Linked DNA regions of Homo sapiens. The protein of the gene in region 1 purifies or fractionates together with the protein of each later gene. This does not show direct contact. Each region holds a gene or a part of one and is shown on either strand. Other genes may lie near its edges. The genes, in order: EDNRB, LNPEP, XPO7 and ATP2B2.

Region 1 (7,514 bases):
TGGAGAGGAAATTATGTAACCTAGGCAGCACTTTTTTTTTCTTTTTACTAATAGGAAACAAGGAAATAGCAATTTCATTTTCAATTTCACATTATGTCCTTGATTCTTTTACTTATCATGATATATACAGTTCATAAAGTTTTATTTAGTCTCCTTATATATTCAATAGAAAATAATCATTGGGAATAGTTAAGCCAGCCCCCTTTGCATTAATGTCTCTTAACTCATTCTGTTGGGAAGAGCCTTTTACACTCAGGATCTATCTTCTGGAAACGAGTATCATCATTCTTTTTCTATTCCCTAATCAAATGTTCTTTAATAAATGACCAGGATGAAAAGTTTCTTGCAATGGCAGCTTTCTTTTTGGCATCAAAGACAGAGAGAGGGGAGTCTTGCCATTCAGACTCCATCCATATCAGGGTGACTTCTATCTGAATATTTGCTGGACCATCCATTCCTCTGACAACTACTGGGCTATCTTGTGCAGATTACGTAGTAGTTGTCAGTCCTTATGGGGCTGTAGGATACAGTAAATTCCTCTTCAAAGAACCAATATGTCAGTGTGTTCAGCTTCCCTGTTCTTTGTTCTCCATTTTAAAGTTTAACTCCCTCATTCTTTACATCTCCTTGCCCCTAGTTTCAGTAAACAACCCCCTCCTAGCCTCTATCACCTGCTCTTTCCTTAGTTATCCTTCATCACCTGCTCTGTCCTTAGTCATCCTTAGTCACCTGCTCTGTCCTTAGTCATCCTTAGCCACCTGCTCTGACCTTAGTCATCCTTAGCCACCTGCTCTGTAACTGTCCTTCCCGCTGAAACTACTCACCCCACCACTCCAGCTCGTACCCCTGCTCTTTTTAAAATAGCCAATTGGAATTAACTTAGACTGTGCGGTCCAACCCTACCCAATAGGGGAAAGATGCAGCAGTGGGAACTAGCTACATCAGGGATAACACCCCCTTCCCCTCCCTTGTCTGGTGTGCTCTCGCCATTGCTCCATTGTGAGACACAACCTTCTATAGAAGTAAATTGCCTTGCTGAGAAAACTTTTGCCTGAGTGCTATTTTCACTTTGTGGCACCAAACATTTTACTTCTAACATGGCTTTAGGTAGAAAGCTATAAATTCACATCAATTCTTTCATGTGGACCTGGTTTATCTATGCCACTGAGATCAAGGGGATTCTTAGAGAAGTAGTGATCTAGCTTCTTGCAGCTTGAGTCATTGATCACCATTAACTCCACAGTCCTTGGATCTATACTCTTAATTTATGCCAAGGACAGTCATAAATCAACAGTTTCCCAAGGAGTGGGGAACAGGGGAAAAATAGCTAAATATTTATAAGGCAAGAGCAGAAAGGAAAATAAAAAAAGTGAAATTTACCTGCATGAAAGCTGTCTTCTGAACGGGATGAAGCAAGCAGATTCGCAGATAACTTCCTTTGTAGTCCATCGTAATTATATCAAAACCTATGGCTTCAGGGACAGCCAGAACCACAGAGACCACCCAAATCAAAACAATTTCTACTGCTGTCCATTTTGGAACCCCAATTCCTTTAATTCTACTCCAAGAAGCAACAGCTCGATATCTGAAGATAAAAATAGAATTGTATTTTAAGCTGGCATACCTTAGTTTTATTGAATTGCACAGTTTATTTTCTAAGTAACATGGAAAACAATAGTATATATTCAGAATATACTTGGATTAAATAGAAGCTTCTACCTGTCAATACTCAGAGCACATAGACTCAGCACAGTGATTCCCACAGAGGCTTTCTGTATGAAAGGCACCAGCTTACACATCTCAGCTCCAAATGGCCAGTCCTCTGCCAGCAGCTGCATTGAGAAGACACGAAGCTCTGTTAGGGGGTTTCATAAGATGCCCTCTGAATTGTATCACTTAGTGAAGAGTAATTAACATGCAGAGTAGGATAAACTCTGGTTGTCATTCTTTTTCTCATGGACTACTTCTTTGAAAAGCACCATTGTTTGATATATGTATGGGACAGGAAAGTGTGTTGGGATTGATGAAAATGCAGCCAGCTTATAAGAAGTCATCATGCGTATACAGTAGCTTAGAGTTCAGCTCACCTCATCAGAGCAAACTTGAGCCAGTCGCTTAAGTTCCTCCTGAAAATTGAACCTGTATACTGTCATGGAGTCTGAAATGCCCAGATCATGGCCAAAGCAAAATATGGGTTAATTAAAATTGAATGATAAACAGTCCTTAGCTGAGGAGACCAGACTTCCCTACTGAAGTAGTACTCCATGCAGAACAGCATGTGCATTCAGGCACTTGTTCTTCATTGCAGTCAGTTTACCTAACTGAACAATCATTCAGTAGGAGTAGCTACACAGTTGCTCAAACACACCAGGCACATTCCTACTTAGGGCTTTCGCTGTAGGTCCTTCCTTATCCTAGAAGGCTCTTTCCCCACAGATTCACCTGGTTAACTCGCTTATCTCCTTCAGGTCTTACTCAAATTTCATCTTTTCAACATGACTTACCTTGATCACACTATTAGATACCGTAACCGGTCAGACATCCCTATCTCCCTACTCTCTTTTCCTTTTTATCCATAGTCTATCAATTCCTGTGGCATAACACATTAACTTATTTGTTTGCTTAGATTTTTTTCTGTCTGGATCCCTGGAGTGTAAGACAGACTATGAGCTCCACAACTGCCTAGAACAGTGCCTGACACATAGCAGATGTTTAATATTAACAGTGCTTGATTCATAGACTCTAAAATATAACAGTGACTGGCTGTATAAGGAGCAAGAAGACATAGTTATTGCTATTATAGATATATATTTATACACACACATAGTATGTTATATATATATAGTGTGTATATATGTACACGTATATATTTCTCTTTATCTGACTGCAGACTATGAAACCATCTATTATTAAATGTGGTTATTTTCTTTCTTAGGACAATATGGTGTGTCCCACACTGGTAAATGAATCATTTTAGGTGAACATCTGGATCAAATGTTCATGAGGTTTTGAAAATAAAAGTATTTCAAATCCATGGGTCTTAAAAATAGTTTGAAAAACAACCTTGCAAAAGTGAAAATTATTTTGAGACACAATGGAGTCTTTCCATCCTTTCACTAGTAGTGAAGACTCTACCGAGTTTGTCAAGCTGAGTTGATTGTTCTATAACTAGAATGACGTCAAAGGCTAAAATGTTTGTCTCATAATGAATTTGACTTGGAGATTCAACATAGGACCAACTTCATTTCTAAGTTAGATATCAAAACTTACACAGACATGTAGGACAAAAGTTGGCAGACTTATCATATATATGCTTAATGTAGGATCCTGAAGACCTACAGGGCCAGGCAGGTAACACAGAGAAGTGGAGGGTGCCAGGTCTCAGAAAGTCATTGGTGTCAGGAAGATGACAGGGAGTGGGGTGGGGTCTGGGGTAAACTTTGTCTGAAAGGAGCAGCTGCTAGTAGACATCACATACTTTTTGCTAAGGGGCTCCAAATACAAAAATCTCTTGATTTTTCTAAAGAACCCAGATTGGAATTTTTATATGAATCTCACAATTTATTAAAGTCCAATTCATATATATTTTTAAAAAACTCTCATATAACATTGTATTATCAAAATACATCTGTGAGCCATCATAGCCTCTATCTTGTGACTTCTGGGTTAATCAACTGACTCATTAATTCTGCTTGTTCATTCATTCATTCAATGAATATTTATTGAGCATTCACTATGTGCCAGACACCATTCTGAGCACTCCTGCTCTCATGGAGTTTACACTATAGTGAGGGAGGCAGACAAAAAACACATACATACTTAAAATGGTGTTAAACAGAGGCTGTGATCATATTGAGTGAGGGTGGGATTTGAGGTGTTTTCTTGATAAGCTTCTCAGTAAGGTCACCCTGAAGAGACAGCATTTGAGGAGAGACTTGACTGAAATAAGACAGTAAGCCATGCGAAGAGCATTCTAGGCAGAGGCAAGAGCATGTGCAAACGCCCTGAGGTCAAAACAAGCCTGGTGAACTGGAGGTACAGCAATGAGGCTACTAGCTACTAAAGCTGGAGAAGACTGACCCAGCCCAAATGCATGGAAAATGAAGTTGTAGAGGGAAGAATTTGAATGCTTTTTTTGAGGGAGTTCATTGCAAGGTTTGAAGAAGGGAAATGGCATGATCTAACATATTTTTCAAGAGATCACTGTTGCTGCCCAGTGTAGAATAGAATGTAGGGCCAAGAAAGGAAGCACTGATGAGAACTAGTGGTGAGCTGGATCCTGTGCGCCCTGAGGCTGTGAAGAGCGGGTTATAGGCTGTATATATTTTAAGGGTAGAGGTAGCTAGCAGGACTTGCTGATGGGTTGGACACATGATGTTGGAAGTCAGGACACTCACAGAGGTTTACCATGTGCATGGTGAAGCCATTTACTGAAATGGGGGAGACTCAGTGCACCACAGGTCTGAACCAGCTTTGAACCCATGTAGCTTTAAAAGAACTGCCAATTACCCTTAGAAATAAGAATAAAAATTATCCAACTGGTTTCAAGGATTATGCTAGACCCAGCCTGGTACAACTTATTCAGACAATATTCTGCTATTGATTACTCCTCCCTTCAAAACATGAAGCCTAATTTCCCTGCCTTTGAATGTGGATTGGACTTAGTGATTTGTTTTCAATGAATACAATGTGACAAAAGTGATGATGTGTGATGTCTGACACTAGTTCCTAAAGAACTGGCTTCCTCTCTCTTGGAACACTTATTCTGGGGGAGGCCAGCTGCCATGTCATGAGGACACTCAAGCACCTCTGTGGAGAAACCAGATGGCAAAGAACTGAGGCCTCTTGAAAACATCAAGCACTAATTTGCCACGTCTGTGAATAAGAGGATCCTCCAGCTTTAGACAAACGTTTGGACAACTGCATCCCCAGCCAGTATTTTAAATGTACCTTCTTGAGAGACCCTAAGCCAGGGCCACCCAACTAAGCCACTCCTTAATTGCCAAACCAAAGACACAATGTGATTTAAAAAATATTTACTGTTTTAAGCCACTAAATTGTAGGGTAATTTGTTATTCATTAGGAAACCCACATGCCTGCTTGCATTTGTTTGCTCACTTAAGTGAGTAATAGATCCACATTTGAACCCAGATGGTCTAGAGCCTATGCTTACAACCACTATAATACCTGCCCGACAGTGGTTTGAAGGAGGTGATTGTACAAAACAAAATGTTTAGAATTAAATCAAATTTTTTTTAAACCTATAGCTATGTGTCAAATAATAGTAAAATATCTAGATGCAGAGCAAAATCTTCTGCTCACCTAGTGCGATGGTTAACTTTATGTGTTAACTTGACCAGCCACTGGTTGCTCAATTAAACATTCTCTATTTCTGAGTGTGTCTGTGAGGATGTGTCTGGAAGAAATTAGTATATGAATTTGTGGACTCAGAACAGCAGATTGCCTTACCCTAGGTGGGTGGCCATTATCCAATCTCTTGAGGGCCTGAATAGAACAAAAGGCAGAGGCAGAAGGAATTTGCCCCTTTTTCTTCCTATCTGGAATGTCTCATTTCATCTCCCCTGGCCCTCAGACTGGTTTCTCAGGCCTTTGGACTTGGACTGAATTACACCACTGGCTTTCCTATATTTGCAGCTTGCAAATGGCCAATTATGGGACTTCTTAGCCTCTATAATCTCATAAACCAATTCCTCATTATCTATTTATCTGTCTGTCTACTAACTACCTATCTACCTATCCATCCATCTATCTATCCCACTGGTTCTGTTTCTCTGGAGAACCCTGACTAATCCCCCTAGTTATTTTATTCAAATAATGTACAAACATTTGGATATTTTAAAATATTTTATTCTGTCTTAAATTATTTCCAAATATGTTAATATTGTTATCCTGTAGGTATGGCTATCAGAAGAATCAAGATGAATGAGCGTCCAGACCATTGAAGGGAAAGAAGTCTGGCTGATGAAAATGAGCTCTGCACTGAATCCAGGCCATGTTTTGAGGTTTCCATTGTTTTTGGCTCAGCCTAGAAATTGGATTATTGCTCTTCATACCACTGGAGGCCTGCAGCCCAACCTCTGACCCAAGCTATCACAGAAAACAGGGAAACACAAACTGAAAATTATAACAATGCTCTTCAAGCTCAACAGAGAGATAGTCAGACACGTAATCACCACGGAGAGATTACAGTTTTCTAGTCTACACTTTTGAAGGGAAAGAGACTGCAAAAAAAAAAAAAAAAAAAAAAAGAGAGAGAGAGCATTAACCTTTATCAGCTTTCAGCATTTCATGCTTTCAATTTAGAACTGGATGCTATTGGCTCTGGAAGGCCATAGAAGATGTGGGAAGAGCATGCACTGTTGCTTCCATTATTTTGTAGTGAGAAGGATGGCTTTGGCGAGACTCTAAACGCTCTTCCTTTAAAAATCTTAACCTCTGCCTCACTGATCAGAAGGCTTTGTGGAGACCCAGCAAAGCCTGATACTCTGTGACAGAAACCATGCCCACTATTGATGCTCATCTCTGTCATCTTAATGGCCTCTAGCAAGAAAGTCTTTAGGCAAGCTAGTGCTTGAAGCTTACCTAAAATATAAAGGTATCCCTGGTGGGGAAAAACTATGAAGTTTTGCCAAAAAAAAAAAAAAAAAAATTCACTCTCAACCAAGATGCCATCTTTAAAATTTGGTGAGAGATTGTTCTTATAGATGGGTATGATTCTTAGACATTCATTTCTTCATCATTCTTTGGGAAAAATAACAACATCTAACATCAATAATTTGAAGTCTAAGGATACAGCTTTCCCCACTGAAGAGGAAATGGATTCACTTTATTGCAAGAGGAAGCAACTCTAACTTTAAACCCAGCAATAACACATTCCTTATTCCCTATTTTTAGTTTTTTCTTTGGACTTTACCCCATTAAATTAGATAACTTAAGGGCAAGGTCTGAACAGTGAAGACAATTCAAACATGTAATCAAAAGGCTGTCTCTCTGATCGCAAAAAGGGTGTTTAGAGTTTAATATTGACACTATGTCGCTTCCACATAAATTAAAATTTTAAATCCTGTTTAAAATTCAGTTGAATATATGTTACCTAACATTGATCAAATATGAGCCAGTTGGCAATACTCACATAACTGGCACTGGTTTTCATATCATGATGTCTCATCTAACTGAATAGCTGTTGTTAGTGTTAAGTCCTGCTGGCAATATGGTATCCATTTGACAAAATGATAGCCTATGTTTGTGCTGACCCATTTTACCCTAAGGCTTATACTGCTTCTCTAGAACATTTCTTTTGGATGATAAACACAAATAAATAAACACTAGATTGAAAAAAGGTGTGGCCATACTGGCTAAAAGATTTCTACTCAAGAAAGACCGTGATTTTATAACTTTACCTTGGAACAGCTGCTTGAGAAAGAAACAAGGCAAGAGAATCCAAATAAATTATTCTATTACATTATAAAGTCATTTTGATATTATAGTTTAAA
Region 2 (7,514 bases), on another chromosome or scaffold:
ATCATTCATTTAACCAAAGCACAAGAATAAAGACTTACAATCACTTCAGTTGAATAAGACATATTTAGATGATTCTGTGATTCTCAGGATATAATATTTTCTACTCTAAAACAGATAAATTTTAGAAAAGACTAAATTGGGGAAAACACACTAGGATTAAAGAAGACTATTTTTTTAGCTTACCAGCCTTTTAAATTTTATTATATAAAAATATTTTCATAAAATAAAATATAATTTTATTCACAATTCCATACATTCTAACTTGATACCTGCCGAATAAAAAAAGGGTGACCTTTCCCACTGTCTGACTCTGTGGAGTGTTTTAAGTGCTCACAAATGGGTAAATACCCTTTTTATGTACATAGAAACTGTTTTCAAACAAAATATAAAGTTCTCAAGAATTATTAGGAAGAAAGCTTTTCTCCTAAGAATCAAAGAAACACAACAATCTAGGTATAAGTCTGCATAGCTCAAAAATTCAAGTACAGTATTTCTCTTTCAGAAGGAGTAAAATGCCATACAGTTTCGGACATCCTCCCTCATTTTTCTTCTTTCCTTCTTTGACCACTCCTTTTATGTTAGTTTGGACACACAAAAAAAGAAAAACTACAATTTTTAACTAAACAAAAGCACTATTTTTGATAGTGAAAAAAATTCAAAGCCCACCATACTAAACACGAATTCAAGTTACTCCTATCCCACATTCTCTTTGTTCCTTTAAGGTACTATGGTGAACTTCAAATAATTGTTTTTCAATTTCTCAAAGGCTCTGTTTTAAAATATGCTTCTAATATGCTACACTATCATATAAAATGAAAATTCACACATGGGTATGATTCAGAGAGAAAGTTTCTATGATCTATGATGCCAAAAGGCAACTTAAATTGCATTCTTAGTGATAGTGATAAAAGTCACAATGAAAACCACTGGTGTTACCAAAATGCTTGCCACGAATGTAGAAATACTAACCTAAAGTATATCTACGGCAGGGAGTGATAAAGGTGTACAGATCTGGGGACTATCACCATTTATGAATAAAATAATTATAATTAAAGCTAACTCAGTTTGGAACAGTTTCCTATGGTAACGCTATAAAAGATGAAAAAGAAAGTCTTAAATATTCAAAAAATTTAACCTTTTGGCCTTGTTTAGCTTTTCAATACAACAAAAATTTTAAAAATCTGTAGCACCTGGCTATTCGGCAGGAAAAAAACACAATAGTTACAGACATTATTTAAACTTTTTTTCAGAAAAATAAAGAATTAATCAAAACCCCAAATCAAAGTAGATCTGCACACCTGAGGTCAGTTCTTACAGTGCATGCTTTATTGTCTTCGTTACCATATTCTTCAGAGCTAACTTTGTACCACATTCCAATGCCATCTATCAATAAGAAGCAACAGATGGCTGACAAACCAGCGGCCTGAAGTGATGGCGGCTCTTAGGGTAGAACTTTCCTTGTTTTACTGTGTCAGTAACTTTCTGGATACTGAGGAATAGAACAGAATTCCAAAACAGGGTTTTTGTCCCCATCTGTGTATCTTCAAAGTAGAAAAATTACTCATTGTTTTTGTAGATGGTTGGCATTTAGGTGAATATAATTTTGTAATAAATAACTACATACTGCCCAAAGACACTTCAGAAAAGATGGATGAAAAATACAGTCAGGCCCTGAGCTAACTAGAACTCCAAAGAGTGCAAACAACTTGGCAGCGATCCTGGCTTTACCTTGGCTTTTGCAAAAGCGGCAGAGCCCAAGCTTACAAGCTCTCTGAATGGGCAACAAAATGAGGTGCGGTTGTGCATGCTACAGCCACCATGTGAGACTTTTGAGGTTCTTCTCCATCCACTGGATATTCAACTGAATGACTTCCAAAGCCTCCTGGACACAACGAAGCCGGAAGGTTGCCTCTGACTGATTTTCAAAGAATGCCTGAACCTGTAAGTTTCACACAGAAGAATTTCAAAAGAAGAAAAGGACGATAAACCTCAGGTAACCCCAGCTTTTAAAATAAGCTTTAACTTAGTGATGGCTGTGCTGCTATCTTGAAAGCAGTAGAAAGAAGTACTTTAATATTCAAGGTATCTACATGGAGTTCCCAATCAAGTATGGTGATATCTGAAATGATTTTAAAAAGGAAATCTTTTTACTCCCACACAGATACATTTTTCTAACTTAAAATGGAACCAAGGAGATGTTTAAGTAACAATAAATAAAGTAGAGTCCAAAGGCTTGGTGCTATGAATTCACCCCAAGAATGCAATTCTTCCAAACAATTTTATGACCACTTAAATTATTTGTATTAGGGAGACAAGGGAAGAGAATGGAATCAGATTTTTTCCTCATTATCATATATGCCACCCTCTAGAAGTAATCACAATGCAGAATCATTAGTACTGATAAAGGAAGACAGAGATAAGAGAAGGAATTAGCATGAAAATCCACCATCTCACTAAAACTGAGCAGCCTGGTCCGGGTGTGCGGAGGGTTGCCCAGTCTCTGTATTATCATTTTATAAAACCAACCTCAGATAAATGTGTCTTTGTTGAAAACAGGTAAGTTGATCCAGCAACAATATTTTGTATGGTATAGGACCCCAGAGGGAACCTGAAGAAACACAAAAACAAGAGCAAAAAGATTAGGCAGCTGCTGGTAAAGCGTTGTTCCTGAGTGCAAGGAAAAGTCTTTAATGCCAAAGCCAGAGTGGAATCCTCCTCCCGGAACTGCAACTGAGGAAACCGGGGTAGCCCTATGCATACTTATTGTCGGTGGGAAGGAAAGGTGGGCAGAAAAAGGGAAGAGTTCAGAACATGCAGACAATTAATCCGCTTAACATTGTCGAAGATCACACTGTACACCCAGAAATGCCATTATTGATTTAAAAGAGAGAAAGAAGCAAAAAACCTACATCTGCATCTAGCTGAATGTGAGTTCTTAACTGATGCCTTGGCAATGCAGAGGTATTTTCCTTTTTGTTTTTTTTTTTTGAGACGGAGTCTCGCCCTGTTGCCTAGGCTGGAGTGCAGTGGCACAATCTCGGCTCACTGCAAGTTCTGCCTCCCAGATTCACACCATTCTCTTGCCTCAGCCTCCCAAGTAGCTGGGACTACAGGCACCCGCCACCATGCCCGGCTAATTTTTGGTATTTTTAGTGGAAATGGGGTTTCACCGTGTTAGCCAGGATGGTCTCGATCTCCTGACCTCGTGATCCGCCCATCTCGGCCTCCCAAAGTGCTGGGATTAAAGGTGTGAGCCACCGCGCCCGGCCATACAGAGGTATTTTTCAATATGCATAGCTAAATGGTTGCTATGAAATAGTCTGTAGCCACGCTGAGCTAAGTAACCTGGTGCCAAGCAAGGCTAGGCTTAATTAGAACTTAGATGGAATGCTACTGTTAAATGATTCATGCTATGGAATTATGTTAACAAATGTGAAAATTTCCGGATGTTTCAGTTAAACTGTCATGGAAGTATTTTTCCTCTCACAGCAAATCCTAACTTCTGTGAGCCAAAACACTGGGAGCTTTTTTCAAATGCACAACTTGAGAATACTAAAAGTTAATAATTCTCTGAGAAACTTACTTCTGTACAAGCTTATTCCAGTTCTCTTTGACAAAATCCCATGCCAGTAAGTGTCCAGGAAAATGTCGACCCACTGTTCTAATGATAAAAGACAGCTTCTGTGTTCGGAAGTTATCTCCATTCAGGCTACTTTTCATTAACCTGAAGAGCAAAGCAGATTTAGCCTCCAAAATTATTATTCATGAAGAAGTGATGACTGAACTTAAATTAAAATTAGTATGGTTTCCTAATTAAAGCTGTGTAGCAAATTGAGAAATAACTGTTGCATTAGTCTACGGTTGATCTATAGATTGAAAATGTCATTTTTTTTAAATGAAGAAAGAACTCACCAATAAAATAGGCATTTACCTATATTGTCACATGACAATAAATAGTTTTTAAATAGTAAAAACATTTAGGAAATAAGTTCTGGTAGAATTTATTACAATTCGGGAGGTGGGTATTTTTTTCTGGTAAAAACCTTATTTGATTTGAATGGGCAGGTTAATTATATTACTATTCTTAAAAAAAACTAGGTCATTTGAATTATTTGAAAATTAGGATACATTTCAGAATATACTCTTATTAATGTTCGTAGCAAACATTTACTGACACTATGTACTAAATAATGTTCTAAGTCCTTGACACAACAATGCTATAAAGTAGGTATTTATTAATACTACCTAACTCAATTTTATAGTTGAAGAAACTGAGGTTATCTAATTGACCCACAGTCACACAGTAATAAATACCAAAGCCCGACATCTGAACAAAAGCAGTTCTCATCTACTATGCTATACTATCTGTTTATAGTGAGAAACCACGCCCCACTCCAAGACTGTGGCAGTATTTTTAGGAGAGAAAAAAACAAAAGCCCAACAAAACGTGATGGATTAAATAAATTATGATAGGGCCATACTACAGAATATTATGAACCCATAAAACACTTTAGTTTTTTTTTATATATAAAGCAGGCTTCATGAAGTGACATGGAAAATCTCATAGACTGATCATTCACTAAAAAGATGGTCACAAAACACTGGGTATGGTATAAACCTAATATGGTTTTTAAAATGCAGTTAAATATGTAGGTATGTGTGTATGTATGTACGTACATATGTACAAATATCCATTCCCACAGATGAATACAAAGACCAGGACTGACACTGTTGTTAACAGAGAAAACGAGAATGGAAGTGAAGGATCATGAGAAATACTTTCATATTTTACTCTATATTCTTAGGTACTGTTTAAATTCTTTATCATGGGCATTCTTAGTGTATTACTAGCATAGTTTAAAAACAGTGATTTTTCTCTATTTGCTTAAGTCAGAGGCTGGCTAATACTTTAAAGAAAATGACTATTTACAGCGTATCTTTTGGTAAGTGGGTCTGGACAGGTACTGAGGACATCTCTGGGACACTATTAAGATTTATCTGAGCAAAATCATACAACAGAAGTAATGAGACCCAGAAGCCTCCTTCTATCCTCAGTGCGACTTCTAACACCTGTGCTCTCTACAGCAGATACCTCTATATTCCTCTTGGCTATGTAGAGCTCCTCTACCCCACCACTGCCTGTTCTTCCTGTCAGGAGGCCCTACTTACTGCCCTACCTTCATCCATATGACACTCCTACTTCTGGGCCTTCATCACTACATATTAAAAAGGAAAAGTCTGACAAATAAATTCATATGAACGTAGAACCTAGAAGGTTTAATATGTGATTTTTTTTTTCTGAAATGCCTACATTTTTAAAATGACAGCTTGCACAAAGCAATGCCTTGGTCCTAAACTATGGAGTACCAATTGTGGTGTATAAGACAACATTCCAAGGGGAGGAAGACTTTTTGAGCAAGGAGTAGGAGGGGGCTGTGACTCCTGACATCTTGTAATCCCTTTTGGGCAAAGGATTTTCTGCTTGTCCATAAAGATAAAGCCCAGCACCTGTAGTCTCCTCACCACACTGTCCAACTTAGGCCTGGCCTGTAACAGAAGTGGGGAAAAGAGATCCCCTCAAAAATGAGCTCCTGACCAAGAGCACAGTGTTTGTATTCTTTTGGTTTCTGTATATCATATTCCTCGGTGATTTCATACCAGTAAAGCTTCCGCACATCCTCTGAGCTGGCAAGTGCTTCTAGTATTTTGTTCTTCTCTGCTTCAGAGCCTATAGAAATGTATTTGCCCAAAAGGAATGACCAGCCTTTGTCAGTTTTTGCTCCAACTTTGAACACAGTTGTCATGACATCAGTAGGTAGGCTGTAAGAGAGGTGGTCAAACATGAGAATAACAAGAAAATATTCTGAATACAAAGGCGAAGAGTTGGCTGTGGTGGAGTTTCTGGTGTGAGGGTTGGTAATAATAACAAGTTTGAGTACACAATTTAGGGTTGAGAAAAAGTTTAATTCAGTGACTGCTATCTTCCTAGTAGTGTGTCTATGGATACATCAGTTCAATTTAATATTCACAGAGTACTCACAAAGAACCAGGCAGGCGACTGGCTGGACACTAGGGAGCGGAAAAGGAATGAGAGCCTCTGTCCTCTGAGAACTCACAGGCTACTACGAAGTATAGAGCAATAACTATATGCATTACAATTCAGTGTGATAAGTTTCATGGTAGAACTATAGCAGTAAATGGGGTGCAGGGAGAAAACACAGTCTACTGCCTTTATTAAGATCTCAGAGCTGGGAAAGACCTCAAAACGTTATCCAAATCCTCCACCCCAACTCTTCATCTGATGCTTGAATCTTCTCTCCATAATGCACGGTAAGGAGCTGGAGAGAACTAATTACCCCCAAAAGCTTTTCTGTTAACTGCTAACTCTACCTGCTATGTTTTATTTCTAAATTAAGAGACTTGTTTATCACCTCACACCCATTAGGATGGCTGCTATCAAAAACCCAGAAAATGGCAAGTGTTGGCAAGGATGTAGAGAAATTGGAATGATGGTGCAGCTGCTGTAGAAAACAATATGGCAGTTCCTCAAAAAATTAAAATTAGAATTACCATATGATCCAGCAATACTACTTCCAGGTGTATTTCCAAAAGAATTGAAAGCAGGGTCTCTAGGAGATATTTGCACACCAATGTTCATGGCATTATTATTCACAATAGCTAAAAGGTACAAGCAGCACAAAGGTCTATCCAGGAATGAATGGATAAACAAAATGTGGTATATACATACAATGGAAAATTATTCAGCCTTTAAAAAGAAAGAAATTTTAGCCAGGTATGGTGGCTCATGCCTATAATCCCAGCACTTTGGGAGGCCTAGGTGGGCAGATTTTCTGAGGTCAGGAGTTCAAGACCAGCCTGGCTAACATGGTGAAACCCCGTCTCTACTAAATATACAAAAATTAGCCAGGTGTGGTGGCGGATGCCTGTAATCCCAGCTACTCCGGATACTGGGGCAGGAGAATCAATGGAACCCGAGAAGTGGAGGTTGCAATGAGCTGAGATCGCGCCACTGCACTCCAGCCTGGGTGACAGAGCAAGACTCCATCTCCAAAAAAAAGAAAAGAAAGAAAGAAAGAAATTTTAATGCATGCTACAACATGGAAGAACCTTGAAGACGTTATGGTAAATGAAATGAGCCAGTCACAAAAAAGCAAATTCTATATGACTTTACTTATATGAGATATACAGTGTAGTCAACCTCACAAAAACAGGAAGTAGAATAGTGGTTACCAGGGGCTGGTGGGGAGAGGGAGTGAGGAATTATTCAATGGGTACAGAGTTTCAGTTTTGCAAGATGTAAAAGTTCTGAAAATATAGTACACAATAATGTGAATATGCTTAACACTACTGAACTGTACAGTAAAAAATGGTTAAGACAGTAAATTTTATGTTATGTGTATTTTACCACAATTTTTTAAAAAGTCTTGTTTGACACCGCATGTTCTCACTCATAGGTGGGAATTGAACAATGAGAACACATGGACACAGGAAGG
Region 3 (7,514 bases), on another chromosome or scaffold:
TAAGTGGAGAGGACCCTATCGGGGAGTGGAGAAGTGCCAGCAAGGCAGAGTGGAGAGCTTCTGTGGGGAGCACTTACCGACAGACAAGCTCACCATCCATGGCGTCTTGCTCATCAGTGCTGGCAAAAGAAACCCGGCCACCGATCACTGCTCCAATAATGTAAACCAGCCATGTCAGCCTTCCTGCAGCAGGAGACAGACCCAGTGTCACCTCCAGTGATAGTTTCTTGAAGACATTCCTCACTCTGAACTTCCTTAATCTTAAGAACACTGTGGTGAAACCATGAAGTCTTACTTTTCTTACAGAGAATGGCTACTTCTCTGCTTTGGTAAGGGCAATGCTAAGAGGGAAATTCGTTAGGTAACCAATGTTCCTGTATCAGACAAGGCCATTATTTTTAGTGTAGTATTTCCTTAGAGTTAAAAACACCCAAGCTGGGCACAGTGCCATGTTACAAACACCAGCCAGGCCCGGTAAAAAGAGGAAGCCCAGGTTACTATCTGTACTTATCTCCCTGTTTCCCCTGGCCCTTGATTTAGCAGTCATAAACCTCTTGGCCTGGTCCCAGCTGTGCTGTGGGGCATTAAAAAGCAGACAGGAGCCAGGTGTGGTGGCACATGCCTGTAGTCCCAGCTACTTCGGGAGGCTGAGGCAGGAGGATCACTTGAGCCAAGAAGTACAAGGCCCACGTGGCAACATAGCGAGACCTCATCTCTTAAAACAAAATCCCACTGCAGATGTGATTTCAGTTCTTCTTCCCTAGTCCCTTGAGGGATTTATTCATTCATAAAGATTCTTGTGCATATGGAGACAACAGATGATGAAAGAATCCTTTTGCAGGGAGGTAGGAAAGAGGTGGCAATGAGCGAAGGGGTACTAGACAACATCTCCTCACAGGTCTAGAGTTCCCAGCACGCTGCACACTCACCCTCCTGCACTGCAATGTCCATTGGGCTTGCGCTGGCGCTCTGTAGCAGCTCCTGGTACGACTGGGCCGACTGGTCAAACAACTGCACGAGGAGTGCACACGTCTTCTCATATTCACAACGCCCAATGGTGGACAGCTGGTCCAACTGCTGCTGGACCAGCCCCGTATCCTCCAGGGGATCTTCCAGGCCATCTCTATTCCCAAGGGAAGAAGGAAGGCAGCTCTCTTAAAATATGACTACTGATTTGCCCAATATAGCAGCTCTCTGACTTCTTCACTTAGCCACCATTTCTGACTGTAGAGGTCTACATCCCGACATTACTTTTAACCAAGGAAGAATGTTTAATGAGGCAGAAGGCCAATGTCTTCGCCCTAGCATCAGTCTCCCTTAGGTATATTCTGCTTGTTGGTGTCAAATCTTACAATCTGAATTCTCAACTCTTAATGTTTTTCTGCCTTAAACCTCAAAGTCCTGCCCTTCTCAACTGTCTGACCTCTTGACTCTTAGTCTTTCGCTTGTTCTTGACTATAGTAAACTGTAGGATAAGTACACAGTCCTGTGTGGGAGGCCATTGTGGCCAGGTGTGTCTTGGAATTCAGAACTGTTCAAATTGGAGGAAGGCAGTATGATGCTTCTACCATATCATATAAAACCCTTGATGGGCTTTGTGGCACATCAAACTCAACGTTCCTGTAGCAAAACTTATGAATATTATAAATGGTCATACTAAGTAGGATTTTAAAAAAACTACAAATGGTCTCATACCAACTCCCGTCCGGTTTTGTAACAAGTGAATTCTAATGCCAAACTGATGAGGAAATTTCTTTTGTCACATCTTTGACTTTGGAATTGCAGACAAGGCATTGTGGCCCTGTACTAGGTCTTGCCTTATCTGCCAGCTCCTAGATTTTAACATCTTGTCCAATGAGGAGCTCTTCTGTTGTTACACTGCAATATGATAATGGCAGCAGCAGCAGCAGCAGGAGCAGCAGCACTAAAACTAGCTGTGTGCTTACCATGTGCTACACACTGTGCCAGGTCATATTAATTTAATCCTTGTAAGAACCTTATGAGGCAGGCCTATTATTATTTGAATTTTACAAATACAGAAATGGAGCAACTTGCCCAAGAGTACAGAGCTACTAACTGGCTATCCGGCCCCAGAGCCTACAAACATGTAACCACTCCCCAACAATGCCTCACTGAAGCCAGCCGAATCCTCAGGAGTGGAAGCTATGGAGGTGACAGAAGAAGGCTTGCTGGTGAACTTCATGAATACTCAGATTTTGAACTGATTCAAGTCATCAACAGTTAAGACTATAACTCATGACTATTCAATGCACTTGGGGCTAAGCAAATTAAGAATCCAACTTAAAAAGGCCCCAGACCCTTAGACTCCAAGTAAATTCTCTTGACAAACAGCCAGTGAAAACAAGAAAGCTACCTAAACAGGGCTATAACTTCATTTAATATAGGTAATTTTTGAAAGGGCTTGACATTTCTTTAGCTACGGGATTTTGGTTCAGTTAAGTCAATGTAGACAGAAACCATGTATGAATGTAAAGCAATCAGTGATCAGTGGCTTAGAATTCTTATGTGTTCTAGCTCTGGAATTAGAATTGATAACTAGATTGTGTAATCTTTATCCACTTATTTCTTTAGGAGTTCACATTAAGCACCTATAAGTTACACATAATTCTTATCATCTATATCTTATAAATGTTTCTCACATTGAAAGAAAAACAGCGGCAAGGACAAACATTATATGGATATACTCTATTCAAAGATATTGCTATGGACAGTGAAAAGGGGGAATATGAATAGAATATAAATGTTCAAGAGACAAGACTATTCTATCAGGCTTTATGCTCTCATGCTACTCTGCTGACAAGGAAGAAGAACCATGAACAGTAGTGGCTCCAATGAGACACGCTTCGAGTACCTCTTTGCCAATGGGGTGTCTGATCTCTAGGAAGTGTGACAACAGGCCACTGGTGCGGGAATGAATGAGGCTAAGTTTCCTTACCTCAGTATGATGTGCACAGATTCCAACCGGGATGTGATGTAGGCTTTGGTGACCTCAGGAGTGTAAGTTTCCAGCATGTGGGGCTCTGTGGCTTTGACATACGGCACAGAGGCTGCCAGCCGCTGCCACAGGCTCAGAAGATAGTGCACACTATTTGGAGCAAATTCCCAGTGCTAAAGAAAAGTAGAAAAGCAGAAGGCATATTTTTCATTTCTGTACGTGTTAGTCCCATGCCACTGACACAGAAGATAAAGACTTTTTTCTTTTTTTTAAAAAAAGAGGATAGACTTTTGTGGGCTTTGTTCTGTGTATGGCATCTAGTTTAATGTGTTTATTAGTATTTTCAAGATTAAGCATCTAATGAGAAGGGCTACTCTATGCTGGCTGTGTAAGCCTTACCATAAGGAAAGCCATATGTAAGTGGGTCTCAACCATTAGTATGCATGACAATCACCTGAAGAACTTGTTAGAAACACCAAGGCTCTACCCTGGACCTACTGAACCAGAAATTATGGGGATAAGACTCAAGAATCTATATTTTTTCATCAGTCCCCTAGATGACTGTGATACAAGCCATAAAATTTGAGACCCATTGTTCTATATTACATGACTAAGAAAGAGAGGGCATCAACTCTCTTTTTACTCTTCTGTCTAGCTCCCTGTTCCGACCTTGGCTTTTTTGGGGTGACTATGAGCTAATTCTCTCTGGGATGAATCTAAATATTATCCTAGTAATTCCCACATGTTCCTCTCCCCACACTACTTGCACTTGTGTAAATGTAAATCACAGGCCACAATAGTAACTACTCTGTAGGGCTATACTGGACTTATGGTTACCTTTGCCAAGAAAAAAAAATATATTCTTACATGGTTAAAACCAACAAGCAAGAGATTCCAGTATTTAGGAAGGAAGACACAAGTAATCAAAGACAAACCTGTAGGCTGGTCACTGTGAAGTTGGCTATCAATCGGATGACCTCAGGGTAGTTTTCCACCTTTACCAATTCTCCCAGTTGATAGTTACTCTTCAATCGGGCCAGTAGTCTGCAAAACTCATGGTAATTGTTTGGGTCTGATAAACTCTGGCAGTAGCAGAGGAGAAAAATAAAATGTAAAATGTGCCTTAACATACTTCAAGAATGATGTATACTTGAGATGGCATGGGGGAAGGGGTAGAATCTACTTTTTAACTTCTGGGCTGCAGGTCATGATTCAGAATGATACGTCTGCATAATGTTCAGAAACAATTTTTTAAAGTCACTTTGAAAAGGGACAGTCACATTTATTATCTCATATGTTCACAATAATAATCACATGAGATGACATTATTAGCCTCAATGGACAGAGTTTGAAACAGAAGCCCAGGAGGATCACACTGAGGCTGTAAAGCTCATTATAGCAGAAGTGGGCACGACCTAAGACGTGACTGACTTGTTTTCTTATTGTTACCAATCAAAGGAAATCTAATGAAATTTTCATTTCCACGTCTGTCAAACTGATCATTCAGCACAACTAACCGATAGTTAGCAAAGTTATACAAATGTTTCATATATTTATATCACTTACTGTAATTTATTCATATAGTAGTATTTATATGATATAGCAAATATTACAGCTATTTTAAAATCTATTCTACCAGTATATTTAATTGTAAGTTTCCTGATATGTCTTCTTCTGTTAGCATATGTGGGCTAAGACTTTGTTTTGTTCACCCGTGTATCCCTGGCACAGAGTAGGTATTCAATGTAATTTGTTGAATGAATAAATGAATTTTAAAAAGAGGGACAAAACTGAGTATATTTTGAAATAAACTGCTTTTTAATTTTCTTCTAGTATAGAGAAGTGATACTTTCAAAAAAATACTGAATCACTGGGACTTCAAAAGACAAAAAGGGCAATCGAGTTATGAAATTAACGTTTGAAAGAAGTATCTTCCTTCCCACCTAAAAGCAGCCCTATATACTTAGGTTACCGATAAACATTTTTTAAAAATGGTAAACAAAATCAAAAACCAAATGTTAGTTTTTTTTTTTTTTTTGAGACGGAGTCTTACTCTGTCGCCCAAGCTGGAGTGCAATGGCATGATCTCGGCTCACTGCAACTTCTGCCTCCCGGGTTCAAGCGATTCTCCTGCCTCAGCCTCCCGAGTAGCTGGGATTACAGGCACGTGCCACCATGGCCGGCTAATTTTTTTTGTAGTTTTAGTAGAGACAGGGTTTCACTATGTTGGCCAGGCTGGTCTTGAGCTCCTGACCTCAAGTGATCTGCCCACCTTGGCCTCCCAAACTGTTGGGATTACAGGCGTGAGCCTCTGTGCCCGGAGATGTTAGAGTCTTAACTTCTTGGGGGGAAAAATGACTAGCTTCTTCCTTATTTCCTTATAGCGAAGTGATTCTTTCCTGTAACTCCTACATTTCTGAAGCGGGAGGATATAAGCTCCTCTTTTGGGCAAATAATCTCAGAATTGGCCTACAAATAGAGATTCACTTCAGTCTTCCCTGAAGAACAGACTGAATTGTTTACTGGGCCTTGGGATGGATTTCCTTCTGACTCATAACAGCTGGCCATACACTAATCCTATACATATGTAAATTCTCAGATAAACTTACCTGTGGGTTTTCCAGTATTCGTTTAACACCATCAACAAGATGAGAGAGAAACTTGGCCCTCTCTGCATTGTTAAACAGGGATCTTCTGACTGAAGCGATCTGTACCAAGCAGGATAATACCTAAATGCAGGGCAGAACCCAAACACAACGATTAAAAAGACTGTACAGTTACTTTCACCAGAAACGTTCCACCTCCTACAATATCCTTCTTTAGGATATCTGAAGCAACATTATTTTAAAAAGAGAAAAGAAAAGAACATAGATCCAAGCAGACCACGGCAGCCCATTAAATTCAGTTTGGAAATTCCCTTAGGTACAAATTCCTTTGACCACTCCAATGGCATCTTTGTTCTTGCTGAGATACGTTATTTCACCCTTAAAAATATCGAGCAATTTATACTTTAAAGTTTTAGATTTAGTTTTCTTGGCTAATCTGAGTTTGACATGTAGATGTTATGTGCTTATGTCATTACATGCTATAAAGAAATAAGCGTATCGGCCGGGTGTGGTGGCTCACGCCTGTAATCCCAGCACTCTGGGAGGCTGAGGCAGGCAGATCACGAGGTCAGGAATTTGAGACCAGCCTGGCAAACATAGTGAAACCTCATCTCTACCAAAAATACAAAAAATTAGCTGGGCGTGGTGGCAGGCACGTGTAATCCCAGGTACTTGGGAGGCTGAGGGAGGAGAATCGCTTGAAGCTGGGAGGCGGAGGCTGCAGTGAGCCGAGATCGCGCCACTGCACTCCAGCCCGGGCAACAGTGAGAGACTCCGTCTCAAAAACAAAAAAAAACGAAAAAAAAAAAGAAAAAAAAAAGAAATAAGCATATCACATCTGGGCCCTAAAAAAGCCAGCTTTGGCCAGGTGTGGTGGCTCACGCCCGTAATCCCAGCACTTTGGGAGGCTGAAACAGGCAGATCACCTGAGGTCGGGAGTTTGAGACCAGCCTGACCAACATGGAGAAACCCTGTCTCTACTGAAAATATAAAATTAGCCGGGCGTGGTGGCTCATGCCTGTAATTCCAGCTACTCAGGAGGCTGAGGCAGGAGAATCGCTTGAACCCATGGGTAGTGCCATTCCACTCTAGCATGGGCAACAAGATCAAAACTCTGCCTCAAACAAACAAACAAAAAAACACAACCCAGCTTTATCCCTGAAGACATTTCCCTCTGTTCCCACTGTGTTAGATATTTACATTCTCTGTTTGCCCCCTCTAGATCTGCTTTCGACCCTTTTCCACCCTGCCCTATTCCCTAGGAGGCTGACCTCTGTTGAGGAGAGCAGCCAAGCTCCCTTGCCCTCTGGCTTCTAGTTGGCTTCAACCAATGGAAAGTACCAGCAGGAGATTAGAGGGCAGAGGGAACAGGGTACCCCTCTTCCGACCATCCAGCTGGCTATGCAGTGGCAGAGTTTCTCTAGTGATGGCTGTAGTTCTTGTTGTCCAGCCCTCCTCTAAGACACAGCTTCAACTCTCTCCAGGTTTCCTTCACTTGCCCTTTGAGGCTCCCCACTACTGCCAGCCCCAGGGGCATGCACCACCACCCCGTGCTGGTGTCCCTTAATTTTACCCATACCTTTGCAAGTAGTACTCTCTTAATCATCCCTCTTGACTGTGCTACCTTTTCTTGCAGTAACCTTAACGATACACCCGACAACACTGAAATCATGTTTCAGCGAACACAAAGGTCTACATTAATTTGGAGAAGTGCTACAATGGCCAGAAAAGTCCTCTACTGAACAAACACTATGCACACCACTCATTACTTCACTGTGTCTTCTTTATATATTTTGTGTATAACACCAACCGGTAATTTACACCAACAATCTGAAATACCAGACCAATAGTATTTTAGAACGTGAATGAATTTTGAGGTTTTAGGTTAATTATGGCTTTAAAAGAGAAATACACCATTCCCAATAGCTTTCAAATGTTATTCAGGGTAAGTA
Region 4 (8,079 bases), on another chromosome or scaffold:
CACAGGCAGCTTTTCTGACCTCCGATCTGCAAACTAGAGATTTCTTTCCTTTTTTCCCTTTCTGATCTCAGAGTTGGCCAGTTGCAGCAGCAAGGTGCTCACCTGCTCCGGCTCCTGATCCTGATGCCAATCACACCTTCGTGCACAGCCCTCTACAGTGTCCAGGGCTCTCTGGCAGCTGTGGCATAAAACAGGGCAGAGATAGGCCTGCCTGGCCACAGATGAGAAGATTGAGGGCAGAGAGAGGAAGTGACTTGGCCAAGATCACACAGCTGGTCAGGAGCAGGGCTGGGCCCAGGGCTCTCATACTTTCCACCCACAGTCAAACACCTGGGGAAAACCAGGGGCCAACACAGGCCTCTGCTGCTTCTTGTCTGGGGCCTGAGAGCACTTGCAAGAAGCCCAGGTCTCTACAGAACACGGTGTGACCTTGGACAAGTCCCTGTGCCTGGCTGGGCCACAGTTTCCTTTTTATAAACGGTCCCAGCTAGGTGGCCTCAGAAGGCATCTGTCTGCTTTGGCTTTCTAGGCATCAGCAACTCCATAGGGTAAAGGGACGACACAGCGGTCCGGCTGCCTAGGTCAGGGCCACGCCCGCCTGGGGAAGGCTCCTCCGCCTTCACCCATAGGAGATCCTCTTCACTCTTTCTCGGAATCTTGCCACAAAATTCTAAGTTCTTGAGCTATAGGTTCCCAAAATTTTGGTACCCCAATTTGAACTGGCCTCATGCCGAAGGGTCAAAGAGGGTAGTTGGGCACCTGGTGGCCTGCCTTCTACCTCCCCTCTGCCACATGCCAGCTGTGTGACCTTGGGTGACACAGCTTCACCTCTCTAGATACAGCGTCCTCATCTGGGACGTGGGGATAACAGGGCTATGGGCGTCCTCACTGAGATGATACGTGCAAAGCAGTTAGCTGGGTGAATGCTAGCTGGATTACTATTATTTACTTGGGTCCCCTGACCCATACCTGCGCCTGAGCTGGGGGAACGCAGAGGAGGGCAGCGGGACAGCACAGGAGGGTGCCAGCATTTCAGGCTCTGCATACAACGTAAGCCACAGCAGCTTCTCTGACCTTCAGTCTGGAGGGGACTTTGGAGTCTGCTGAAGGTGTTCCAGGCCCCAGCTCTCAGAGACCCCATAGCAGCGGGCTGGTTTCCTGATGCCAGGGAGAGGGCTGGTGGGGCCAGTCTGGGCTCCTGGCGGTCTGGGCCACGGGCAGCAGCTGCGTCCCTGGCCGCCTCTGTCTCCTTTCCAACTTTGGGCAGCCTTCTCTGAAGAACATCAATAACCCAAGATGGCCTTGCTGAGTCTAATCACAGCTCCCTGGGAATACGGGCTGGCCCTCCCCCAACGCCTGTGTGAGGCTGTGGCGGGCACTTAGGATCCAGTATCCCTCTGTCCTCATCGGAAGTCCCTTAAGGGGCAAGCTCTCCCTAGCACCCACAGAGCCACCTTGCCTCCTGGAAGCTGAGGGGGCGGGTGTGTGCACGCAGCATCCGCAGAGGTGCTGCATCTGTGTGCCTGTGGCCGTCTTCTTATGTGTGCAACTGACATTCACCTGTGGGCACATTCCAGCATGCCATGTGCCTGCCAATGCACGGGCAGGCACGCAGATGGCATTCAGAGCCCCACATGTGTGTGCCTGTTGTTTTCACACCTGAGCCAGCCCTCAGGTGGGTACACACATTTCTGGCTGTTGCAGGGCACTGTGTGCAGCCTACTGCTTTCCCGTGTTAGTGCTACATGCATGTGTGGGCAAGCTGCATGCACAGGTGTGTATGTGTGTACTGCATTCGTGTGTGTGCTGTGTTTTGCACGTGAGCATGTGGTGTTCAGGAACGTGGGTTGTATTTACAGGTGCTGGGGTGTGGGCATGGGCATTCCATATGTGTATATATGATTTGGACATATATGACGCACTACTTATGGGTACTATATTTGTATCTGTGCATATGTGTGAATTTGTGGGCATGCATATGCCCTGATGTGAATGGGACTAGGGTGTGAAGGTGGCTAAATAATGGTGGCCATCAGCATCTTTCCTGGACCCCCAACCCCCCACAGGACTCCCCAGAGCTGCAGCCCCTTCTTTGCCACTGCTCCTTCAACGAAGTTAACAGGCGGAGGCCCCCAAGGCCTGCGCTCCAAGCCCCCTCCTACTGCACACGTCAAAGGAGAATTTCTCCGGATGGCGCCCGCTGATCCTGGAAATACCCCAAACGTCAGCTCTGCCTCCTCCCAGCGATTCGGAGAGCAATGCAGGAGAGGAGGGAGCCCCTTCCACGCTGGGCTCAGGGCATGCAGCGTCGCACTAAGACCCTCTGCCGGCTGGTCGGGCTTGCCTGCTCACTTACCCTTCTGAAGGTCGAGCCAGGCTGGGCCTCTGCATGGAGGGCCCGAGACCCCCAGGGCCCTTGCCTGATTGGGGCAGGCCAGTCCAGAGCACCCCCCCAACCCCCAACCCCCAACCTGGGTGAGCAGAGGACAGCCGTGGTGTGGAATAGCTACTTGGCTAGAAAGGGGTTGCTGCTGTCCGCAACCCACCCTCAGGGAGTCCTGAGGCCCCCTGCTGCATTTTCCCATCCTGACCCTGCAGGGGGCAGGGAGGAGCCTCAGGTGCCCTATCCCTCAGCTGGAGACCACTGAGGCTGGCCTAGGAAGTGGGCTTCTGGGCAGAGGGTGCCGACTCCACCACCCAGCATGACTGCTGCAAAATGGCCTGGCCACCCGTTCCTGCCACCCTCCTGGCCATGGAGGGGACCCAGGAACACGTCCCTGCCACCACATGACCCGGCTGGCCTGACCCAATGAGTCCCAGCACACAGCTGCCCACCCCACCAAAGGGACGCTTCACAGGGGCCTCCTCCTGCCTCTTTCCTGGGACTCTGACCAGGGTGGGCAACGGGCACCCTCCAGTCCTCTTGGTCTCCCTGGGACCGGCTCAGAGAGAAGAGAACCTTGTCCCCTGCCACCAGCTTGCTGGCCCTTGCATAACATCCTTAGGGGGCATTTGCAGTCCAGAGGCTGCCGGAATCTACCTGAGACCCTGGGCATCCGCTTGTCCGAGGCCCCCCTGTCCTAGTCCCCAGCATCCAGCCGTCCCCCACAACACGCGGACCCTCACACTAGTGTCTCCCTCAGCGGCGGCTCCCAGTGCAGCCTCGGCTGCTGCCAGATAAACAAGCCCTGCTCCCACCCCCCCTCCACGCTGCCACCGCCACCACCATCAGCACTGAGAAAAATCAAATGAAATGAAACAAAATAAAATGGGTGAGGGAGGAAGGGGAGAGTGGAGTGGGGCGCTTTTTATTTTTTATTTTCTCATGCTGGGGGATGCCGGTACTTACTTGGCTATGAAAATCACCACCAATCCTGCACGGTTTCCCGGCGGGCAGCCCCGTAATCGCGGTGCGGCAGCTGGTGCCGCGGCTGAGCCCAGCCAGCGTGCCCGGGCCCCTCTGCAGACTGTACCATCCTGCCCGAGCGGGTGGGGGGCGGGGGGCGGAGGCGCCGGCGCCGGTTCTAGGAGAGCATCTCGCCGGCAAAATGCAATCTCGGGGGAGGCAGAGGCCGCCCCTGCCGCTGCCGGAGGCTGGGGGATGGGGGCGGGAGGAGGGAGGGAGGGAGGGACACAGGGAGGGCCGGTTCTGGAGGGGGCACGGGGGAGGAGAGTGGGGGGCGGGGGGGGTGTGTGGACCGAACCACCACGCTGTTGTTTGCGGTTTTAATTCCTCCCGTGGGATCATGAGGAACCGAAGCTGGCAGAGTCCCAGGAATATGCCCGCTCCCCAGAAGCAGGAGGGAATGTCAAGGGCACGGAGAGGGTAGGGCTGGGCTGTGCTGGAGGGAAGGGGGTCCTGAGAGTGGTGGTGGGGAGAACGGGAGCAGAGAGGGGAGGATTTTGCTCAAATGGCCCCAAGTCGTCCCTTGCTTTCTGGGGGACTTATTTGGTCAGGGGCTCTGGCCCCCCTCTTTGCAGTCAAGGCACCCCCAGACCTGGGGGGCAAAGGGGCAAAGGTCGCAAATGGGGAGAAGTCGACTCAACACATTTTAAACACATCTGTGTTTCCAGGGCCAGTGGAGCTGAGCCCGCAGCAGCTCTCTGCTGCCCTGAAGCGCTACCCCTGCGACCCGCCCTGCCTGTGTGCGACCCCACCTGCCCTCGGGGGGGTGTGGTGGTGGGGGCTGGCTTGGCAGAAGGGCCTGCCTCAAGAAGGTGCCCACCAGCAGGGGTGTCTGCATGTCTGTACACCCACCTAATCTTCAGGACATCTATGATGAGTTGCAGGCCGACTGTGGGCTGACTGACACTTCCACGGGAACCCAGGGACCCCGGGTGAGGAGTCGGTAGGGTTGGAAGCCCCTAGCCAGCTGCTCACCTCTTCCTGCCTAATCTCTGCCAGACTTGCTGCTCTTTCAACTCCAGATGGGTGGGAGGAGAGCCCTAAGAGCAAGGTTAGGAGGTCACCGGGGGCGAGGGGCTTCTCTAGAATTCTGAAGCCTTGGCCTCCACTGCCCTGCCCCCTCCAGGAGGGGTACCCTGCTTGGAGGGAGGGCACTGAAGGTGGAAGGACCTTCAGGACCAGTGTCTCAGGGCACCTGTCAGGGTGGAGGGGTGCATGGGGGACAGGGGCAGGGCTGGAGGCGGCCCCGGGAGGCAGTTCCAGGCAGAAGCTGCCTCTTTCCCCTGCCCCCACCTCCTGCCCACCTCTGAGCTGCCCGCCCGAGCGTCCCGAGCTGCCGCTCCATCCCTGGGCTGGCACAGAATACCAATTTGTCTCGTTAAGCTGAAAGTCTGCACTGCACCAAAATCAGAACCCGGCCGTGCAGAGGGGCCACGGGAGGGAGACAGTTGGGAGCGCCTGAGGTGGGTCTCCCACCAGTAGGCCATGCTGAGACCTCCTTGCTCCTCAGCCCCCAGCCCCATGGAAGGGTGCCCACCTGCCCCTTAGCCCGCAGGGTGGCCTCAACGCAGGGAGGATGCTGCGAAGCTACGATGTCAAGGGCCGGGTGGTCATTCAAGGCCTTGGCCTCCACTGGGGCAAGGGTGTGAGTCAGAGGCCAGGCAAGGCTCCCTGCTGGGGTTCTGACAGAGCAGCCCAGGACACCCCTCAGGGAGGCTCTCGACCCCACACCAATAGCCCAAGACTGGGGGCTTCCAAAGCAGCCTCATCTCTGCTTCATCTTGCGGGTGCAGATGGGAACTCTACCCCTCTTAGGGGTGTAGTTGGGGGGATTCCACTGGCCACCCCTCTAGGTGGTCTTCTAAGTCAGCAGTCCCTAGTCAGCTCCACCCCAGGGACCAGGGCCAAGCATCTGCCCTTCCCCAAGGCCCACAGGCTCTCCGTTCCCCAAAACAGGCCCGTGTAAAGCTGTTCCGAGATGTTGGAGCGAGGGTGGGCAAAGACGGGCAGAGGCGGAAAGGCCCATTGCACCTCCCATCTGTTGCCAGCCTACATGTCTGTGCCAGGAATCCCACCATTATTACTTCAACATCTTTGGCGGTAAACTGCTTTCCCTGCTTACAAAATAGCCCGAGAAGCAGCCTGTTATGAGCCACACATTTCAACAATCACACTGCCTTCTGTGTCCGGCACACTTTACAGTTTGTAAAGGCCACCTACAAAACAGTAAATCATTTGATCCTCCCAACTACCTCTGGGGTGGCTGCCGTGAGCACCCAAGGTACAGATGGGGAAGCTCTGTGTAGTTCAGGGGGATGTGGTGGCCAGGGCAAGGTGGCACAACCAGTAAAGAGTAGACCAAACTTGTGACGGAGGCCTCTGGACTCCAAGCCCAGGGCTGCCTGCATGCGCAGGCCATCATGAGTGTGGGCTCACTGGGAGCCCTGACACTCGTCCGCTCCCAAGTCTTGAGTCTTACCTTCCCGGTGGTCCCTGTCTGAGACGGGCTGGGCTCTCACCAACGCACACTAGCAGCCAAACTCTCAGGCAGTTGTGGATTTTGGTTTTCAGACCCTAAGACTAGAACTGCCACCTGGCCGAGTTCCCATCTCCTTGACATTCCAGATCCCATGTCTTTCAGCGCCTGCATCCACCCCGCAGTGACTGGATGCCCCTATCTCCTGAGGCAGTGCAAATATTGAACAGCAAAGTTTGAAGGTTTTTCCTTGTGGGTATACCCCAGTTCTAGGCCCACCCTACTCATTCTTCGAAGTCCAACTCAAATTCTGCTTCCCCAGACAGTCCTTCCTGATTCCACCAACTGAGTTGGTTCATGCCTCTGTTCTACCTCTGACCACACTGTATTGTGATGGTCTACACGTCTGTCTCCCTCACTGGGCTGTGACCACATCAGACATGTCTCCAGCATTCCAGGTCTCAGGTCCCAGCATGTGTTAGATGGTGCAGTAAAGGCTTGAATGAGTCTGCTGGACCCTTGAGAACTCCTATCCAATTCTCCCATTTTACAGTTCAGCAAACCGAAGCCTCAAGAAAAAGATCAGGGCTTGCCTAAGGTCATTCTTGAGGGTGGAATCTGGCTGCAGACATCTGTCCCTTGCCCCGTCCCCTTTGCCTTCTCTTCCTGCAGCAGATACACCTGGGTCATCTGGCCTGGCCTTCCAGGATGTGTTGGGGGGCAGGGGGTATTGGACAGGCAGAGGTGTTGTGAAATTAGACAAACAATGGCACTAGTGTTGCAACTCCAGGAAGGTTGGAAATGACAGGTCAGGGTCAGCCACAGGGAAGAGGGGGAAAGAGGCAAGAGGCCAGCTGGGAGGATTACTGATAGCTTCTGCCTCCAGCATGATTTGGCTTATGGTGGACACCGATTGAGAGTCAGGGTTAGGGAAAGGTATGAGACATAGGGGAGGGGGACGGAAGGAGGAGCCAGCCAATCTGATTTTTACTCTGTGTTTAGTTGGCCAGACCATGTTTTTCTCCCTTGGGGAGGGGTCCTGGAGCTGAGACACAGGGTGAGTGAATAGGGTCAGTCTGTCTAGGAATGGGGACACAGAACTTGGCCCAGGCTGCTGGAGGCTCTCTGCACAAGGGCAATAGAGGAGGCTCTCTGCACGAAGGCAATAGAGGAGGTAGGTCCAGGCAGGTCTGAGGGGAGAGGACTGAATGTAATTAGAGGCCAGCTGTGTCTTCGGTATGAGACGTGGGCTCTCTGTTTTTGCTCTTCTTTCTGGGAAGCATGGATGAGGGCTACCCCTGCCCTTGCCTTGCCTGGCTCGGGGTCTGTAGACACCTGGGTAGGAGTTCTGGGGCAGCTCTCAGGTCACTGCTGCCCCAAAGAGCTGTCAGCTGGGTTCCCCGGGGGATAAGAAGGTATTTCCAAAGGTCTCTCACATTCCTGTCTCCTCTGACCCCCACAGATCACCCTCAAAGAGCCCAGGCTTCTTCCCATTTTACAGAAAAGAAAATTGAGACCTGGAGACCACAGGGCCTTACGTGAAAGTTACAGAGCCAGTGAGGACCAAAGCAAGATTGAGGGTCCCACTCAAACCCTAGGCCCCTCTCTCTGCGCCTGCCTAAAGTTACCCAAGTTTGAAGCACACAACTCAGGATCTCTAGCCCCAGACCTTGACGGGCCGTGGACTGTGGATCCAGGGGACCACACGGGCTGGCTTGCCCGAAATCTCCTCTCCAGTCACATGGAAGCCTCGCATCCACTCCCCACTCCCACCAAGGCCTGAAACTCCCTCAGCCAACCAGATCTCGAGTGGAGGCTTTGTGGCCACACAGACCTGGGTCCAACTCCCAGCTCTCTCACTTACAGGATGTGTGACCTTGGGCAAGTGACTCGACCTCCCTGAGTCCCAGGTTTTTTTCATCTGCAAAATGGGTATGATAATACCTATTTGGCGGGGTTGCAAGTTAAAGGAGAATGGCAACTGTTATTAGTGGAAGAAACAGAAGGTGAGAGTCTCCAGCAGGCCCCAGGGAAAATGCTGGCGGAGAGTAGGTGGCTTCCAACTCCTCTGGCTGGTAGATAAGGGTTCCCAGATAGCATCTGCAGGGCTGAGGCTGGTCTGGTCTCTAGTCTATTGAGATTTGAACGCAGGTCACCAATTCTCCCCTCCTCCTACTGGTCCTTGCTCCCTCAGGGA

The links.
Region 2: the proteins of EDNRB (region 1) and LNPEP purify together in Homo sapiens (affinity purification with mass spectrometry; 2 studies listed by BioGRID and IntAct, with this or other methods). This does not show direct contact.
Region 3: the proteins of EDNRB (region 1) and XPO7 purify together in Homo sapiens (affinity purification with mass spectrometry; 2 studies listed by BioGRID and IntAct, with this or other methods). This does not show direct contact.
Region 4: the proteins of EDNRB (region 1) and ATP2B2 purify together in Homo sapiens (affinity purification with mass spectrometry; 2 studies listed by BioGRID and IntAct, with this or other methods). This does not show direct contact.

What each region holds. Positions count from the first base shown.
Region 1 is NC_000013.11:77,901,776-77,909,289, forward strand, and holds part of EDNRB (endothelin receptor type B isoform 1 precursor), read right to left. Parts: intron 6,668-7,514; exon of another isoform or gene 5,917-6,667; intron 1,833-5,916; coding exon 1,720-1,832; intron 1,586-1,719; coding exon 1,381-1,585; intron 1-1,380. UniProt on the Homo sapiens protein: Non-specific receptor for endothelin 1, 2, and 3. Mediates its action by association with G proteins that activate a phosphatidylinositol-calcium second messenger system.
Region 2 is NC_000005.10:97,022,827-97,030,340, reverse strand, and holds part of LNPEP (leucyl-cystinyl aminopeptidase), read right to left. Parts: intron 5,821-7,514; coding exon 5,659-5,820; intron 3,725-5,658; coding exon 3,584-3,724; intron 2,609-3,583; coding exon 2,527-2,608; intron 1,940-2,526; coding exon 1,808-1,939; 3' UTR 1-1,807. UniProt on the Homo sapiens protein: Release of an N-terminal amino acid, cleaves before cysteine, leucine as well as other amino acids. Degrades peptide hormones such as oxytocin, vasopressin and angiotensin III, and plays a role in maintaining homeostasis during pregnancy.
Region 3 is NC_000008.11:21,978,255-21,985,768, reverse strand, and holds part of XPO7 (exportin-7), read right to left. Parts: intron 5,686-7,514; coding exon 5,566-5,685; intron 4,039-5,565; coding exon 3,892-4,038; intron 3,130-3,891; coding exon 2,957-3,129; intron 1,124-2,956; coding exon 930-1,123; intron 184-929; coding exon 78-183; intron 1-77.
Region 4 is NC_000003.12:10,502,116-10,510,194, forward strand, and holds the start of ATP2B2 (plasma membrane calcium-transporting ATPase 2), read right to left. Parts: upstream 3,472-8,079; 5' UTR 3,350-3,471; intron 1-3,349. UniProt on the Homo sapiens protein: ATP-driven Ca(2+) ion pump involved in the maintenance of basal intracellular Ca(2+) levels in specialized cells of cerebellar circuit and vestibular and cochlear systems.